Linked DNA regions of Homo sapiens. The protein of the gene in region 3 purifies or fractionates together with the protein of the main gene of each other region. This does not show direct contact. Each region holds a gene or a part of one and is shown on either strand. Other genes may lie near its edges. The genes, in order: EPB41, ZNG1C, C2CD2 and VPS13C.

Region 1 (4,424 bases), on a different chromosome or scaffold from region 3:
ACAATTACATCTTTCTTGATTTCCTTTTTAAACTTAGAGAATACCTATTAGTAAATATAGCATAATATTTTAGATGATTTGTGATTGAACATATTTACATTTGCAAATAAATAATGTGATTAAGAAATAAGGCTGGGTGCGGTGACTCATGCCTATAATCTTAGTACTTTGGGAGGCTGAGGCAGGCAGATCGCTTGAGCCGGGGAGCTCAAGAGTAACCTGGGCAACATGGTGAGAACCTGTCTCTACAAAAAATATAAAAAATTAGCCAGGTGTGATGGTATGTGCCTGTAGTCCCAGCTACTCAGGAGGCTGAGGTGGGAGGATCACCTGAGCCCAGGAGGTTGAGGCTGCAGTGAGCTGTCACTGCGCCACTGCACTTCAACCTGGGCAACAGAGCAAGACCCTGTCTCAAATAAATAAATAAATAAATAAATAAATAAATAAATAAATAAAATAGTTTGTTCCACATATATGTGAATTACACACTTTGTCAATAAAAGCTGTTACTAGTAACAATTGCAATTGCTTATATATCAAGCATATCATAATAAACAACTACTGTTCCAGTTTGAAAAATATATAGTTAGTAGATTTTTTTAAAATTTCAACTTGCTCTGGCCGGGCGCGGTGGCTCAAGCCTGTAAACCCAGCACTTTGGGAGGCCGAGGCGGGCAGATCACGAGGTCAGGAGATCGAGACCAGCCTGGCTAACACGGTGAAACCCCGTCTCTACTTAAAACACAAAAAACTAGCCAGGCGTGGTGGCGGGTGCCTGTAGTCCCAGCTACTCTGGAGGCTGAGGCAGGAGAATGGCGTGAACCCAGGAGGCAGAGCTTGCAGTGAGCCGAGATTGTACCACTGCACTCCAGCCTGGACGACAGAGAGAGACTCTGTCTCAAAAAACAAACAAACAAAAAAAAAATTGTCAACTTGTCCTGAAGGAGCAAAAAGAGTAACTGAATAACTCTGATATTTTTCTTCAATCCTGATTCAATCACTTATTCTTTCAGAAAACAGAAAATTTTAAGAAATGGCATTTACTGGACTTAAAGACTTACTCATCATCTTCCCATAATCCCACCTCCAGAAAATCACCATTAATACTTCCATCTACAGAAATAATCATTAAAGGCCGGGCGCAGTGGCTCATGCCTGTAATCCCAGCAATTTGGGAGGCCGAGGTGGGCAGATCACTTGAGGCCCGGACTTCAAGACCAGCCTGACCAATATGGTGAAATCTGTCTCTACTAAAAATACAAAAAATTAGCCTGGCATGGTGGCACATGGCTGTAATCCCAGCTACTCGGGAGGCTGAGACAGGAGAATCACTTGAACATGGGAGTTGGGGGCTACAGTGAGCCAAGATCATGCCACTGCACTCCAGCCTGGGTGACAGAGCAAAACTCTGTCTCAAAAAAAAAAAAAAAAAGAAAAAAGAAATAATCACTACAGTGAGTCTTATCGTGGGCAAAATCACCACTTACGCAACTCTAGATGAAACCACCTGTAAGAGTTCTGATTGTTGGAAATGAAAACATACTCACCTCCACAACACATTCATAAACTGTGTCATCCAACAAAGAAACCTTGCAGTGCATGTTCCTGTGTTTTCTGATTGGTTTTTGGGAAGCTTTTAATTCTGTTTCTGCTTTTGATTGAGGGCTTTCTTCTTTTACTTCTATTTTGGAGCACTCTTCAAGTCCTTCTCCTTCCTTAATTTCAAAATCTGGATCTTCTCTGAGTTCTTCCTGAGCAGGCTACATATCCATGACATCGCCAAGTCAGTAATAAACACATTTCACAAAACATGCTGTATATGCTTTTACCTATAATAATCTTACCAATAAAAGCATGAACTAAAACAAATATAGGTGACATTAATATTAAATATTTTTCTATAAAAAATAGTATGATCCCCCAAATGCCCTAAAGACTTTGTTATTAAAACTTCTCAGGTAGAATCCCATCAAATCAATAAATGAAGGTCTCAGGTAAACCGGAGGATACCAATCCATTGCTCTCAGCATTATATATTCTTCCTGACCAAGCCATTACACGGTATTATTAAAGTTTAACAAAAACGTTATTGTCTCTGCCCATGCTCCTCAATTTTAGCAATGTAGCCTTACAAACTGCAAAATAAGATGTGACTTGTTACATATTCTAAATTTTAAATTAATTTTAATTCTAAGAGAAATGCTTGGGACCAATTTCACATCATTAAGCAAACATGTAGTAGGCTAAAAATTTTAACTACCAGCTAACACCTTTCTACCCAATATTAATCATGTTAAATGCAAAGAAGAGTCAATGAAGGAAGAGTTTCCTGGTGCAATCTTAAATTATCCCCAAATAATACCGATAAGTAGGATAACATTTTTGGTATACATTTTTTTTTGAGACGGAGTCTCACTCTGTAGCCCAGGCTGGAGTGCAGTGGCGCGATCTCGGCTTACTCCAAGCTCCGCCTCCAGGGTTCAAGCGATTCTCCTGCCTGGGCCTCCTGAATAGCTGGGACTACAGGCGCCCGCCACCACGCCCAGCTAATTTTTTTGTACTTTTAGTAGAGATGGGGTTTCACCACGTTAGCCAGGATGGTTTTGATCTCCTGACCTCATGATCTGCCCGCCTCGGCCTCCCAAAGTGTTGGGATTACAGGCGTGAGCAACCGTGCCTGGCCGGCATACATTTTTACTTTTACTTTCAACACAACAAAACTACCGACATATTTTTATCTAAACCCGACTAATTATTTTCTTTTAAAAGAATATGTTACTTCCTTGTGTAACAGCTGGAAAACAATTAAAAGAAAAAAAGAATGCATGGTTGACAATTAGGAAAAAGAAATTAATTATTTGACTCCTGCATTAAATACTGGAAGTAATCTAAAAGACTCCTTCCGATCTTTCATGACCCTCTCACTGCAACCTCAGGAAGTCTCTTCACTGGCTATCCTATCTATCTATGCCCGCTCTACTGTCTTTCATATCAGTACTCTGGTGGCTTTATAACTTATTACAATAAATAATTATTTTTATTTGCTACTTTTTTGTCTTCTCTATTAAAGTCCACAAGGGTAGAAATCATGTCTGTTTTATAATAATAATAATACCAAACATTTATACAACAATTACAATGGGCCAGTCACTATTCTAAGAAAATTACTTATGTGAACTAACTCAATCCTCATAACTACCCTGCGAGGCACGTAGTATTATTATATCCCCACTTGATAGAGGGAGGATAATAGTACCTGGCCTGCAGGGTTGTAAAACAGGCCAGAGAAATTAAGTAACTTGCCTAGGATCATACAATTAATAAGTCACATACCAGTCTGGCTTCAGAATCCACGATTTGTTTTTTTTGCTTTTTTTTTTTTTTTTTGAGACAAGAGTCTCACTCTATCACCCAGGCTGGAGTGCAGTGACATAATCATGGCTCAATGCAGCCTCGACCTCTCAGACTCAAGTGATCCTCCCACCTCAACATCCCAAGTAGCTGGGACTACAGGAGAGCCACCATGCCTAGCTAGTTTTTTACTTTTTTGTAGAGATGGTGTTTCTCCATGTTGCCCAGGTTGGTCTCGAACTCCGGGGCTCTAGTGATCCTCCTGCCTCAGTCTCCCAGAGTGCTGGATTTACAGGCATGAGCCACCACACTCAGCCCCAAAATCCATGATTTTAAACCTCTTCACCATATTGCAGTTTTTATTTACCAAGGTATATCCAGCCTAGGGCCTGGCACACATGGTAGGTTTTCAATAAATATTTGTTGAATGAATAAACAAACATTAAAAATTTACATAGGCTTCCAAAAAATCCAAGCTACTCTGGATGAAGACTGGTACAATCCTATATTTATATATATTATACACTTAAATGTAATATAAATATATATTTATATATTTATAATATAAAGCAAACACGCTTTTTAAAAAATTCTGGATAAAAAAGAACCATTTAAATAAAATCCTATTACATATACAGAAACATGGTTAGGCAAATAAACCTTTATCCAGACGACTCTGATCCACAAGGTTTTGACTATAAATATTAGTTTCCAAAAGGCCTAAAATAGTTTGTTCTTTTAAATAATATCTCCTTGAAATTTTACTAACAATATCGTTTCTTTTTCTCCACATGAAGACAAATAACCTACGGACAATTTATTTCAATTCGGAATTAAATCTTAATGAATGAGATTTTAGTTAAATCTAAAATTAACTGTCCATCATCTGTGTCAACTTGAGTACGAATCTATGAACTTTAGACAATGCAGACAAGTTCTGATTCAAATGTTAACTAAAACAAGATATGGATTTTCCCCTATATAAAGCTGAAGGAGAAAAAAGCAGTTAAAAACCCCTTGAGGCCAGGCACAGTGGTCATGCCTGTAATCCCAGCATTCTGGAAGGCTGAGGC
Region 2 (4,424 bases), on a different chromosome or scaffold from region 3:
AGATTTTTAATGGAGATGAAATGGCCTCCTTTTGGAAGAAGATGCCATTTAGGACTTTCATAGCTATAGAGAAGTCAATGCCTGGCTTCAAAGATTCAAAGGACAGGCTGACTCTCTTGTTAGAGGCTAAAGCAGCTGGTGACTTCAAGTTGAAGCCAATAATCATTTACCATCCTGAAAATTCTAGGGCCATTAAGAATTATGCTAAATCTCCTCTGCCTGTTTTCTATAAATAATAAAGCCTAGATGACAGCACATCTGTTTACAGCATGGTTTATTTTAAGCCCACCATTGAGATCTACTGCTTAGAAAAAAAAAGATTCCTTCAAAATATTATTGCTCATTGACAACACACCTGATCACCCAAGAGCTGTGATGGAGATGTACAAGGAGATTAATGTTGTTTTCATGCCTGCTAACACAACATCCATTCTGCAGCCCACTGATCAAGGAGTAACTTTGACTTTTAAGTCTTATTTAAGAAATATATTTCATAAGGCTATAGCTACCATAGATAGTGATTCCTCTGATGGATCTAGGCAAAGTAAATTGAAAACCTTCTGGAAAGGATTCATCATTCTAGATGCCATTAAGAACATTCGTGATTCATGGGAGATCAAAGTATCAACATGAATAGGAGTTTGAAAGATGATTCCAGCCCTCACAGATGACTTTGAGGGATTTCAGACTTCAACGGAGGAAATAACTGCAGATATGGTGGAAACAGTAAGAGAACTAGAATTAGAAGGGGAGTCTGAAGATGTGACTCAATTCCTGCAATCTCATAAGAAAACTTTAACTAATGAGAAGTTGTTTCTTATGGACGGGAAAAGAACGTGGTTTCTTGAGATGGAATCTACTCCTGGTGAAGATGCTATGAACACTGTCAAAATGACAACAAAGGATTTAAAATATGACAGAAGCTTAATTGATAAAGCAGGGTTTGAGAGGACTGACTCCAATTTTGAAAGAAGTCATACTGTGGGTAAAATGCTATCAAATAGCATCATGTGCTATAGAGACATCTTTTATGAAAGGGAGAGTCAACTAATGCAGCAAACTTCATTATTATCTTATGAAATTGCGATAGCCACCCCAACCTTCAGTAACTACTACCCTGATTGGTCAGCACCCATCAACATTGTGGCAAGACCCTCTACCAGCAAAAAGATTATGACTTGCTGAAAGCTGAGATGATCGTTAGCATTTTTTAGCAATAAATATTTTTAATTAAGGTATGTATGTTTTTTAGACAATTCTATTACACATTTTATAGACTACAGTATAGTATAAACACAGCTTTTTTTTTTTTTTTTTTTTTTTAAGAAATGGGGTCTCATGCTGTCATCCAGGCTGGAGTGCGGTGGTGCAATCATGACTCACTGCAGCCTCAAACTCCTGAGCTCAAGTGATCCAAGTAGCTGGGACTACAGGCCTGTCACATCACACCCGGCCAAAACGCATAACTTTTATATGCAATGGGAAACAAAAAAATGTGTGTGACTCACTCTATTGTGATATTCAGTTTACTGCAGTGATATGGAACTAAGCCCACAATATCCCTGCGGTATGGCTGTACAGTATAAGAATCACCTGAAGGGCTTATTAAAAACAGCTTGCTTGACCCCCTCCCTTAGAGATTCCGATTCAGTAGATCTGGGTTGGTCAAGAATTTGCATTTCTAACAAGCTCCCAGCTGAGGCTGAGGCTGCCATTCAACATACTACCAAGTAGCACTGGCATAGAGAGATCCCTGGAATAAAATTTACCTACTTGTGTGTGTGTGTATGAATGTGTGTGTGTGTGTGTGCGTGTGCATGTGCGTGTGTGTGTATACAGTCTTGCTCTGTTGCCTGGGCTGGAGTGCAGTGGCGTGATCTCGGCTCACCATAACCTCCGCCTCCCAGCTTTCAAGCGATTCTCATGCCTTAGCCTCCTGAGTAGCTGGGATTATGGGGTGCGCCACAACGCCTGGCTAGTTTTTGAATTTTCAGTAGAGACTGGATTTCACCATGTTGGCTAGGCTGGTCTTGAACTCCTGGCCTCAAGGGATCCACCTGCCTCAGCCTCCCAAAGTGCTGGGATTACAGACATGAGCCACCATGCCCAGCCCTTACTTGTATATCACAATAGTGAGATGATTACTTTTCAACTTTCTTCTTTGTATTTTTTAGGTATTTAAATTTTTTTACAATGAATGTTCCATCTTTACCCAAACAATAAAATCTTTATTGTAAAGAAAGTTAGAAGCAAGAAACATTAACATTTTTTATAACTACAATTTGTATAAAAGCTTTCTCTGTGATCTTTAGTTTTTCTTTCTTCCTCTGAAAAGCTGAATAGTGTTTAATTAAACTCTCAAAAGTATCAAGTTTTTGTCTATAAAATGGCAAAACTGGCTATGATGAAATAAACTGATATTTGCTATTTCTAATAAAAGCATACAATATATTCTTTCTTACCAGATTCAAATAATATTTAACGCCAACATATTAGTCCAAGTCCTATCATCAGTCAGATTTATCAGAAAGGTATGAAAACCCATGCCTACTATAAGGACCAAAATAGCCTAATTCAATACTACTTTGAAAACATGGGGATGATGTTACTACGTAATTGTTTTAAGTACAATAACCACTGATCACATTTGAACTCTCAGGATACTTCAATATTTCTTTTGGACAACTATGACCTGTTTAGTAAATTACCCCCAAATACTTTAATATAGTTTTACAAATCGCCCCAATGCCAGAGACCCAGATCAAAAAGAAAATAATGGTATGGGTCAGATTCACAGAATAAGCACTAACTTTTATGCAAACTGAAAATAAAGATTTTATCTAAAAGTTATTTGGGGAAAATAAGCAGACTTTATCAAGAATTAGAGCTTGGTAAGAAGGTAACAGAAACCCATTGTGAGAAACAGGTTGACTCTGTGTAGCTTTCCATAGTAGAGTTTAGAGTTTCTTGTCATGATTACCTTATCAATGCAGTATAATAACTACTTACACAGCACTTACATTGTATTAGGTATTATAAGTAATCTACAGATGATTTAAAGTATATGGGAGGATGTGCATAGGTTATAGGCAAATACTACACCATTTTATGTAAGGGACTTGAACATTAATAGATTTTGGTATCCTCAGAGGTTCTGGAACTAATACGCCATGGATGCCAAGGGACAACTGTACTTAGAAGTAGAACGTCTCTGCTCTTCCTACATGTCCTTATTTTTAACAACTTCTGTTCTTACAAATAATCCTAAATCAATCAATAAAACTTCCAATTCTATTAACAGCTTAAAAGCACCAAGAAATACTCTGATCATTCATTCAACTGCCAAAGAAAATGACAAACGAGTACTTTTCCTCTTTTAAACCAAAAAAAGTTTTTGGTTTAATACTAACAAAAGCTTTAATACTCATTTTAGATATTCCTCTAATACATCTATTTACAATATATCACAGAACTATATTCTGGTTATTAATAATCTCACTTCTTACCAGGGTCTGCTAATCCAGTGGTCTCTAACAGTATGTCATCAAATTTCCCCTTCTTTTGCATCAAATTCTCAATAGCTCTAAGGCCATTGTCCCTGGAGAATACCAAAACATAATTTACAGTTAATTACCTAAATATTTTGAAGTGATTATTATAAACACTTTAAAATGTATTCAACAACCCGAGACAAAAGTATCCTTAGGAATGTGAAAATTTAACTCACTTCTAACCTTCTAACAAAATGTCTGTCCCATATTTACCAGTGAGAAAACAATAGATGCATATATATAATAGGTAAAAAGAAATCATATACATAATAATACTTTATTAAAATTAAAAGCAGAGGAAACTTTATCTGACCAAGTATCTTTTTATAGCTTTATGAAATTTTTAAAAACCAACATACAAAATAATGATAAAATTTATTAACTATAGTAGTTTAATATAATAGCTAAAGGGACACTGATATTAAACACCATATAATTCTATTTTACATTAGGATGCAAGGTTTTAAATTCCTTTTTTCTTATTTTATCAAAAGTGAAGGAAAATCCTTAATAGATTACATTTTGGTTGTTCAAGAAAGTCTGTTATAATTTTATCCTTGCCAAAACATTTGACACAAAGTCAAATACCTAAGGGAGTAAATGATGCCGAAGAGATTTAATTCACTAGAATACACAAAATTAACAATACAAGTAGTCATTTTTATAATTCATTCAACAAATATTTGAGTGCTACTATGTGTTGGGTAACTCTTCTAGGGTCTATGGTAGACTAGTGATCACTGTCCTTGGAAACTTAACTACTAGAACATAATGTAAGGTTTTTCTTTTTTGATAGTCATTTATTTTTTATAAGGTTGAACACTTAGAAGTATGACCAATGACAGATTAAATTCAGAATAATCATTTTTTACA
Region 3 (4,424 bases):
TCTGTACCAAAGGGGAGTCTTACATCATGTTCCTCTCTTTCGATAATTTTTCTTGAAATGATTTGCCAACCTCTCAACGTGTAAAGCGTCCCTGATTAGAAAGTCTCCCATGTCCTTGGTGAATAGGATAAACTGTGTAAACACAACACCACACATGACTCCTTTGTGGGGTGAGGAACATAATTTGACATTTGTAAATGGAACTCTCTGGACGTTAACCAAGTGCTTGGGCTAACTTCTTCAAAGGGCAGAGGAGCAGCAGGTCACTGACAGATGACCAGATGAACACCTCCCCAGCCACCACGATGGTACCTTGGAGATCCCTGATATGATAATAGTGCTTTTCTTCCGTGGCGACTTGAGTTTCAGCTTTGAAGATTCACTGAGCTGTCGAATGGCCACTTCAGCCACTGGATCCGAACCATTCAACACCAACAATTCTACCAGAAGGAAGGCAGTGTTAAGTTCATCAGCAAAAATTAAAGACTTCCATGGGAACTTCCAGGGATAATGGAAATGGTCGATAAGCAATGGTTAGCAGATATTTTCTAAAAGGGGCCAAAGGGTCAATTGTTTAGGCTTTGTTGGTGGTCTCTGCAACAACTTCTCAATGCAGCTTTTATAGAGTGAAACCAGCTAGAGACCACAGGTAAATAAATGAGCATGGCTGGGTTTCAGTAAAACTTTATTTACAAAAACAAGTGACGGGCCAGATTTTTCCTATGGGCCATAGTTTGCTGTTTGCTGACCCCTGGTCTACAGCTTGATTCCCTGGGTGGTTACAAGATACTCACTGAAGTGTCTGCTTAAGATTCACCGATTTTATTTATTTAAGTTATACCTGAATAGAGTTGATGGAAAATGGCAAAAGCAAGCAAACAACAAAAAAAAAATATCTAACCCTTTGGAAGATTTTGAACTTTGAAAGGCAAGGTAGTGACTCCTTTTCCCTCCCAAGAGTGCCTAAATACATAGAATAGTAACTAGAGCTATGAAGGGCCAGTTAATAAAAGCACCTCCTTCCCCAGGTTAATAACAACACACACCAGCCAACATCAATAGAATGCTTACGGCAAACCAGGTGCTGTTCAGAGACAGAGCTCTGTGCACATTCTCTCATTTACTCCTATTCCACACCCCATGAGCAGGTCCTTCCTTTTATCCCATTTGACCATTGAGGAGTATGTCCAGCAGCCAGGAGGCCCCAGAGCTGAGATGACCAGCAGGTCTCTCTGACTCAGAGCTGATGCTTGTAACTTACACTTTCCTGCTCAGGTAAAGTCAAAATGGCAAAGCTATTAAAGTAGCAGGATGGTAAAAGGAACTTCTGTCTCGGTTTTGGCCATGGCCTGAGGCTTACAGATGCTGCATTTCCAAAGGGAGTCAAGATAAGACCACAGAGGCCAAGAACCGGTGACAACAGTGACACTGGGGAATAATAAATAGATACTTGGTCTTCCTCCCTGGTTCCTGGCACAGAGAACAAAAAAAAAAATCCTTTGAATTCCAGAGCCACGGAGCTGGGGCATCCTTCTCATTCCTAATAAGCCCCTGCACCCCATCCGAGTGAATGCTAATGAGGACGGGCACTGGATGTCAGAGGCACCAACCCTGTGGTTAGAAGGCTGGAACTTTCTGCCCTCCTCTCGCCTGTGGGGAAGGGAAAGGGGCTAGAGATTGAGCTCAAATCACCAAAGGCCAATAAGTGAATCAATCATGCCTACATACCTACTTATAGAAGCACCATAAACCCCCTAAATGACAGGGCTCAGGGAGCGTCCAGGTTGTGAACCAACGCATGCACGTACTGGGAAAGGGGCGACTCCACGGAGATCAAAGCTCCCACACTCAGGACCCTCCCAGACTGTGCCCTGAGCCCCTTCATCTGGCTGTGCATTTGTGTGATAATAAACTGGTAAACCCAAGTAAAGTGTTTCTCTGAGTTCTGTGAGCCATTATAGCAAATTACGGAACCCGAGGAGTGTGTCATGGAAACCCCAATTTGTAGCCAAGTGGGACAAAAGTGTGGTAACCTGGGGACCCACTATTTGCACCTGACATCTAAAGTGGAAGGGTGGTTTTGTGGGGCTGAGCCTTTCACCTGTGGGATCTGAGCTAACTCCAGGTAATGCCAGAATTGAATTAAATTGTAGGACACCCAGTTGGTGTCTGCAGAGAAACAGAAAATTGCTTGCCATAGAAAATCTACACATTTGGCGTCAGGAGTGTTGTGAGTAGAGGAACAGATTTTTGTTTAGCCACTGACCCACACTGAGAAGAGAGAAGTGCTGGAGAAAGGAGTTGGGGAGGACTCCTTAGGAGAAAGCTGTGCTGTAATTCCCAAAGCCACCAAGGGAGACGTGTCGGGAGCACGTCCTCCTCACGCCAGGCCCAGTGCTTCTGTTCAGTCCCCCGAGAGCCCGGTCCAGGTGCCAGGTGCAGCCTGCACCGTGGCAGGTGAGCCTGGGGGCCGGCTCCATGGACCATGCATCAGAACCCACAGTGGGAACATCAGCCTAGGTCTTTTAAGAGGGATCCTGCCCACGTGACAGGACCCCGCAGCATGGGCAGTGGGGGCACTGCCAGGGGAAGAAACTGAGGAAGGGGCATCAGGGGCAGCGGCAAAAGCATCAGCGGCATTAGTACCAGAGCGGCTCCAGCTCAAATAAGGGCTGGGCAAAATGAGGCTGGGATCCCCTGGGCTGCACTCCCAGGAGGTGAGGTGCCCTTACTCACAGGGTGAGCTAGGAGGTCGGCACAAGACACAGGTCACAAGGACCCTGCTGATAAAACAGGATGTGGTAAAGAAGCCGGCCACAACCTACCAAAACCAAGACGGCAATGAGAGTGACCTCTGGCTGTCCTCACTGCCGATGATACACTGAGGATAACGCATTAGCATGCTAAAAGACACTCCCACCAGCACCATGACAGTTTGCAACTGCCATGGCAAAGGCAAGAAGTTACCCTACGTGGTCTGAAAAGGGGAGGAATGCTCAGTTCTGAGAAATCGCCGCCCCTCGTAGAAAACTCGTGAATAATCCACCACTTGTTTAACATATGATCAAGAAAGAACCAGAAAAAGAGCCAACCAGCAGCCCGTACGGGTTCTCTGCCTACAGAGTAGCCATTCTTTTATTCCTTTACTTTCTTAATAACTTGTTTTCAATTTACTCTGTGGACTCGCCCCGAATTCTTTCTTGCACCAGATCCAAGAACCCTCTCTTGGGGTCTAGATCAAGATCCTTTTCTGGTAACGAAAGGAGGGGCAGGGCCTGCGTCCCAGAACTGCAGGTGGGGGACCCAGCGGGGTAGTATCCAAAAAACCATAAAACCTCCCACAAGAGGAGGAGGCAGTTATGAACTTTCACCAGGCTGAGAATCCAACACCATGTTAAGACAGTGCCCCTCCAGTGAGAACTTTCCACTCCCCTGACTGCCCCACCTTGCCCAGTTGTTGACCTGGGCAAGGTCAGACACAGGACTCAGCGAATGTGGGAGAGCTAAGCAAGAAGGAAGCATCCATTGCCCCTGAGAGCAGGTCACGAGGAGGCAAAGGGAGAAAGTTAATCCCCAAATTTAGATTGCGCAGTGATTTAATGAGTCAGTAAGACATCTCTTCAAAAAGTCTATTACCTGAAACTGACCATAAAATAGGGAATTTGCATTTCCTATTCGTAGTGACCATTTCCTAGTGGAAGGGAAAACTACTTCTACTAAGCTGGTGTAAGCAGAAAGTGGTGAATAAAATTAAAGTGACGGTGAGGACGATGTCCTGAGTCCTACTTATTTGCTATTAATGTAGCTAGCGTGTTGTGCAAGAGAAAAATGAACAGAAAATTTAAAATGTAAAGTCTCAGTTGGCTTTTTATTTTGTTAAAGCATTCCCTAAAATGTAGCAGGAATATGAATGCCGCTCCTGGTCTCTGATCAATTTGGAGTTCCCTTTTCTCCCTCTCCTTCACTCATCACTCATTAACAAAACAAAAGCAAATCAAAACTTTTTTTTTTTTTTTTTTTTTTTAAGAGACAGGGTCTCGCTCTGTCACCCAGGTTGGAGTGCAGTGGTGCAATCTCGGCTCACTGCAACCTCTGCCTCCCAGGTTCAAGCGATTCTCCTGCCTAAGCCTCTTGAGTAGCTGGGATTACTGGCATGCGCCACCACGCCCAGCTAATTTTTGTATTTTTAGTAGAGATGGGGTTTTGCCATGTTGGCCAGGCTGGTCTCAAATTCCTGACCTCAAGTGATCCACCCGCCTCAGCCTCCCAAAGTGCTGAGATTACGGGTGTGAGCCACCACACCAGGCCCAAAACAACTTTTTCCAAATTCTGAAAGGAAAATACTTCATATCAGAACAGCCCAAAAGGCCCAAAGGTGCTAAGAGGGAGAGCGACGTGGGCGTGTCTCAGTTACCTGTGTCTGA
Region 4 (4,424 bases), on a different chromosome or scaffold from region 3:
GGAAGAGAAGGGAAGAAGGGATGGAGAGAAGAGGTTGTTATTACTTTATTTGTAATAAGTTCTTTTTAGGCTTTTATTTGATGTATAAGTTGATTGAATTTAATAACTATATGATTTGGCTTCAAATATTTATAATGACAGATGTACACTAGAAATAATTATTGGAGTTTACTGTTTTATTCACTACATTTAAAGCATTGAAAAACAATTATTGTTTTCCAATGGCGTTCAGGTTCTTTAAGTATACCTCGTGCCCAGTCACGAATAGAAGATATAGAATACTTTCTGCAATCTATTTCTCTGTTTGCACAAAGGATACAAAAATGAGTCCTTTTTTGGTTAATTGGTTAATGCCAATAATGGTAGTAGCTTTACTTATATAGGTCCGTGACCAACAGTGATTGAACTAAGGCTCAAACTCATTTCATTTGAAGTACCATGTAAATATCAATTTAGTTTTTTCTCAATATTTTAAAATACTGGATAGTCTTAGAATGTATATTGTTAATGGATTTACTTTTAAAAATATATAAAGTAGTAAATGAGGGAAAAACTCCTCGAATTTGCATATTTTAAAGCACTAGGTTAGGTGCTGGTGAGACTTTACATTCTTTGTGTATAAATTTATGATTGATTCAAAAAACGTTTTTGAGCTTTTACTGTGTATTAAAAAAATGTCCTTTACAAGGCATTGGGGATATGTAGCCCCTGCTGTCAAAAAACTTAATGACATATGCGGGAGAAAGAAAGAAATCAGTGATTACAGCTTTCAGTGCTAGAGGCATGGCCAAGATGCAGTTGGGAGCACAGGCATGGGGCCTTTAATTCAGACCAGGACATCAGGGAAAGCTGTGTAGAAGCAGGACTATTTGATTTGAGTTTTGAAGGGAGATTAAATAGATGGGGAGCATGGAAAGGTTTATCCAGACAGAACTGATAATATGCACAAAGGCAGAGGTGTGAAAAAATCCTTTAAGATTTAGAGGGGTGGCCGGGCGCGGTGGCCTCACGCCTGTAATCCCAGCACTTTGGGAGGCCGAGGCGGGCGGATCACGAGGTCAGGAGATCGAGACCATCCCGGCTAAAACGGTGAAACCCCGTCTCTACTAAAAAATACAAAAAATTAGCCGGGCGTAGTGGCGGGCGCCTGTAGTCCCAGCTACTTGGGAGGCTGAGGCAGGAGAATGGCGTGAACCCGGGAGGCGGAGCTTGCAGTGAGCCGAGATCCCGCCACTGCACTCCAGCCTGGGCGACAGAGCGAGACTCCGTCTCAAAAAAAAAAAAAAAAAAAAAAGATTTAGAGGGGTGGTCACATATGGCTGGAGAGAATGGTGTGGTGGCGTTGTAAGACTGGAAGCATTAATTATAAGTGACATTAATAAGACACGGAAAAAAAGTTGACAAGTAAGTTAGGAAAACAATACATACTAGATCCTGCTTTTGATGATATAATTATATCCCTTTACATTTTAAGTAAGGATTGTGAGAAGTGAACAATAAAGGAATACAGTTAACTTATTTAACCTAGTATTTCTCAAACTTTGGGAGAATCCTGGCTAGCTGGTTGAATAGGCACTAGGCCACAAAGAGCTCTGCACATTAAGTTAAAGAGAGTTTCAATTTTATCTTGTGGGATAAAAAAATTATGGGAAGTTGATGAAGATTTTAAACATAAGAATGTCATACTCAGATTTGGTTTGTAGAAAAATTATGCTGGTGGCAGTGTGGAGTGTAGGCTGAGAGGGCGTTGGCCGTAGAAGATGTCATCAGTGTAGAACTAAGGCACAGTAATAGGAAGTGAGGGAAGTGAGCAAAGAAAGGCACTGTCCAAAGATAATAAGAGGTAGGATTTATAGATCTTGGGGTAAGTCAAAGGAGAGCTGTGATTTTGAGTCTTCCAGCTTTAATAAGGCAAATGTATATCTTTTTCTTCCTTTTTTTTTTTTTCAGAAGATCTTGTTGCATACCGATATTTATGTGTATCTTGACAAGGATCACACACTTTGGCTTAGTTAATGTAGCTGTTTTTAAAATGAAGAATTTGTTTACATTGCTATACTTGTCTATTCACATAACACTGTTTTGCTCTGAATTGATCAGCTTAACTTTAGATTTTGACTACTGACATATAACATTAGTTATTTAATTCCAGATAACCTGAGTAGAAGTCAGTGTTGCATGATTACTTGGCTTGACACATAATTTTGTGTTCTCTCTTGTTTTTCTTGGTTACGAATTTATTCAAAATTTAAATTAGTTACTTTAATTTAAAATTAAAATTTAATTTAAAAATGTCACTTATAATTAATGTATGTCACTTAAAATCATGTATGTATATATTCTCATCTGGGAAAGAATTTATTATAAATATTTTTCTGCTTTCTTTTTTAAAGATTTCACCCATAATTCTTAATACTGTGTTGACAATCATGGCTGCATTGTCTCCAAAAACAAAAGAAGATGGATCCAAAGATACGTCTAAGGAAATGGAAAATCTTTGGGGTATCAAATCGATTAATGATTATAACACTTGGTTTCTTGGTGTTGACACGGCAACAGAAATAACGGAAAGCTTCAAAGGCATTGAACATTCACTGATAGAGGAAAATTGTGGTGTTGTTGTAGAATCCATTCAAGTTACCTTAGAATGTGGCCTTGGACATCGAACTGTACCTTTATTATTGGCAGAGTCTAAGTTTTCAGGAAATATTAAAAATTGGACTTCTCTAATGGCTGCTGTTGCTGACGTGACACTACAGGTATGGCCACATCACTTAATACCTTCAGAGACTTCTTGAAAGTGCGATTTTGGAATTAAGATATACACTTTTCTTGTTTGTGCATGGCCACTATGAGTACATATGTGAATAGATAGTGTGTTCTGACATTTAATTTGTCGATGTATTGTTTTTTGATAATTATTTTTTAAAGATTGATTTGCTAAATAATTTATGACAATAGAGTAAGAGAGTAAAGGAAAATACACTCTATATATTGTTAGATGGGTTTTGAAAATGGCTAATGATATATAACATTGATTACTTAATAATTTCCCTATTGGTTACAGAAATATGTAATTAAAGCCAAAGGACTGTCTTATAATTTTGTGTGTATCTTTCCAGGTGCACTATTACAATGAGATCCATGCTGTCTGGGAGCCACTGATTGAGAGAGTGGAGGGGAAGAGACAATGGAATTTAAGGCTTGATGTAAGGAAATCTTAAAATATCTTTGGATAGAATGATACTATGCATATTCATTCATAGTTTTTATTTCAGTGATTCTTAAGATGTGGTCTAGGATCCTTGAAGCCCTTTTAAGGGCTCTGTCCATGAGGTCAGAACTCTTTTCATATGTCATTTTCATTCTCATTCTCTCACGAGTGTATAGTGGAGTTTTCCAGAGACTAATGAAGGTGATACTGCAACAGATTGAATGCAGAACAGAAACGAGAATTTATCTGTCTTCCCTTAAGGCAGGCAGTAAAGAGATATATGTGTATGTTCCTCTTCTCACTGTATTTTTAAAATAGTTATTTTTGATTAAAAATGTTATTTATATTAGCATGTAATTTTTATTTTTAAATGAATTTTTAATTTTTTTTCAGTTTTAATTGTTAATAGAGTACATATTGGTAGATAAAACATAAATGAAGCTCTTTAGTATACTCAGTGATTTTTAAGGGTGAGACCAGAATATTTGAGAATTGTTAATGAACTCTTGTGTGTTATCTTTTTATGTTGTTTTTTGAGAACACCTCAGAAACCTAGATACTGAAGCACATTTTTCTTGATTAAAAGGAACTTGAGTCATATATTGTTAAGAAATTGTCGTAGCATACTTCTTTGGGGCAGCCTTACTAAGGAGTCAGGCACTGAAACTGACTCCACATATTCTTTTGTTAAAGATGAGTCACTTAACCTGTGTTCCAATTTCCTCTCAATAAAGAAGTAATATTTTTCTGACCTGCCTTTCTCTGGCATAGGGAGGCTAACAAAGAATGTTTTACAAGGCTTTTGAAATACTACTAGAACAGAAGCTGATGGAATCTGATGGCTAGTTAAGTGTTTATTATATTAATATTACTTATTTGAAGGTGTTATTGGTTTAAAAAATAGAAGGAGAGAAACATTTCCAGGTGGCACCTCTAATAGGGATCAGTTTAGACTTCAGGGTCCTCTTAGATTGCTCGTCAACACATAATCACCAGTTGGGTGACACTGAATAAATAGCTATGCTCTGAGGAATGCATAAGAGACAAATATTGTAGCTGGCTTTGAGTAATTTCATGGCGTAATTCTAAACTTTTCCCCATGCTTGGACTATACCCTGAAAGAATGAATGCTGAACTCCATGAAATCAAAGTGAAGCATGGTATATTTTTGAAAATAAGACTTTTGCGAAGCATTACTATAAAGTGATCA

Evidence for each region.
Region 1: the proteins of C2CD2 (region 3) and EPB41 purify together in Homo sapiens (affinity purification with mass spectrometry; one large-scale study listed by BioGRID and IntAct). This does not show direct contact.
Region 2: the proteins of C2CD2 (region 3) and ZNG1C purify together in Homo sapiens (affinity purification with mass spectrometry; one large-scale study listed by BioGRID and IntAct). This does not show direct contact.
Region 4: the proteins of C2CD2 (region 3) and VPS13C purify together in Homo sapiens (affinity purification with mass spectrometry; one large-scale study listed by BioGRID and IntAct). This does not show direct contact.

The regions. Positions count from the first base shown.
Region 1 is NC_000001.11:28,990,666-28,995,089, reverse strand, and holds part of EPB41 (protein 4.1), read right to left. Parts: intron 1,761-4,424; coding exon 1,548-1,760; intron 1-1,547. UniProt on the Homo sapiens protein: Protein 4.1 is a major structural element of the erythrocyte membrane skeleton. It plays a key role in regulating membrane physical properties of mechanical stability and deformability by stabilizing spectrin-actin interaction. Recruits DLG1 to membranes.
Region 2 is NC_000009.12:68,247,980-68,252,403, reverse strand, and holds part of ZNG1C (zinc-regulated GTPase metalloprotein activator 1C), read right to left. Parts: intron 3,599-4,424; coding exon 3,507-3,598; intron 1-3,506.
Region 3 is NC_000021.9:41,901,310-41,905,733, forward strand, and holds part of C2CD2 (C2 domain-containing protein 2), read right to left. Parts: coding exon 4,415-4,424; intron 441-4,414; coding exon 313-440; intron 1-312.
Region 4 is NC_000015.10:61,920,732-61,925,155, reverse strand, and holds part of VPS13C (intermembrane lipid transfer protein VPS13C), read left to right. Parts: intron 1-2,393; coding exon 2,394-2,759; intron 2,760-3,122; coding exon 3,123-3,209; intron 3,210-4,424. UniProt on the Homo sapiens protein: Mediates the transfer of lipids between membranes at organelle contact sites. Necessary for proper mitochondrial function and maintenance of mitochondrial transmembrane potential.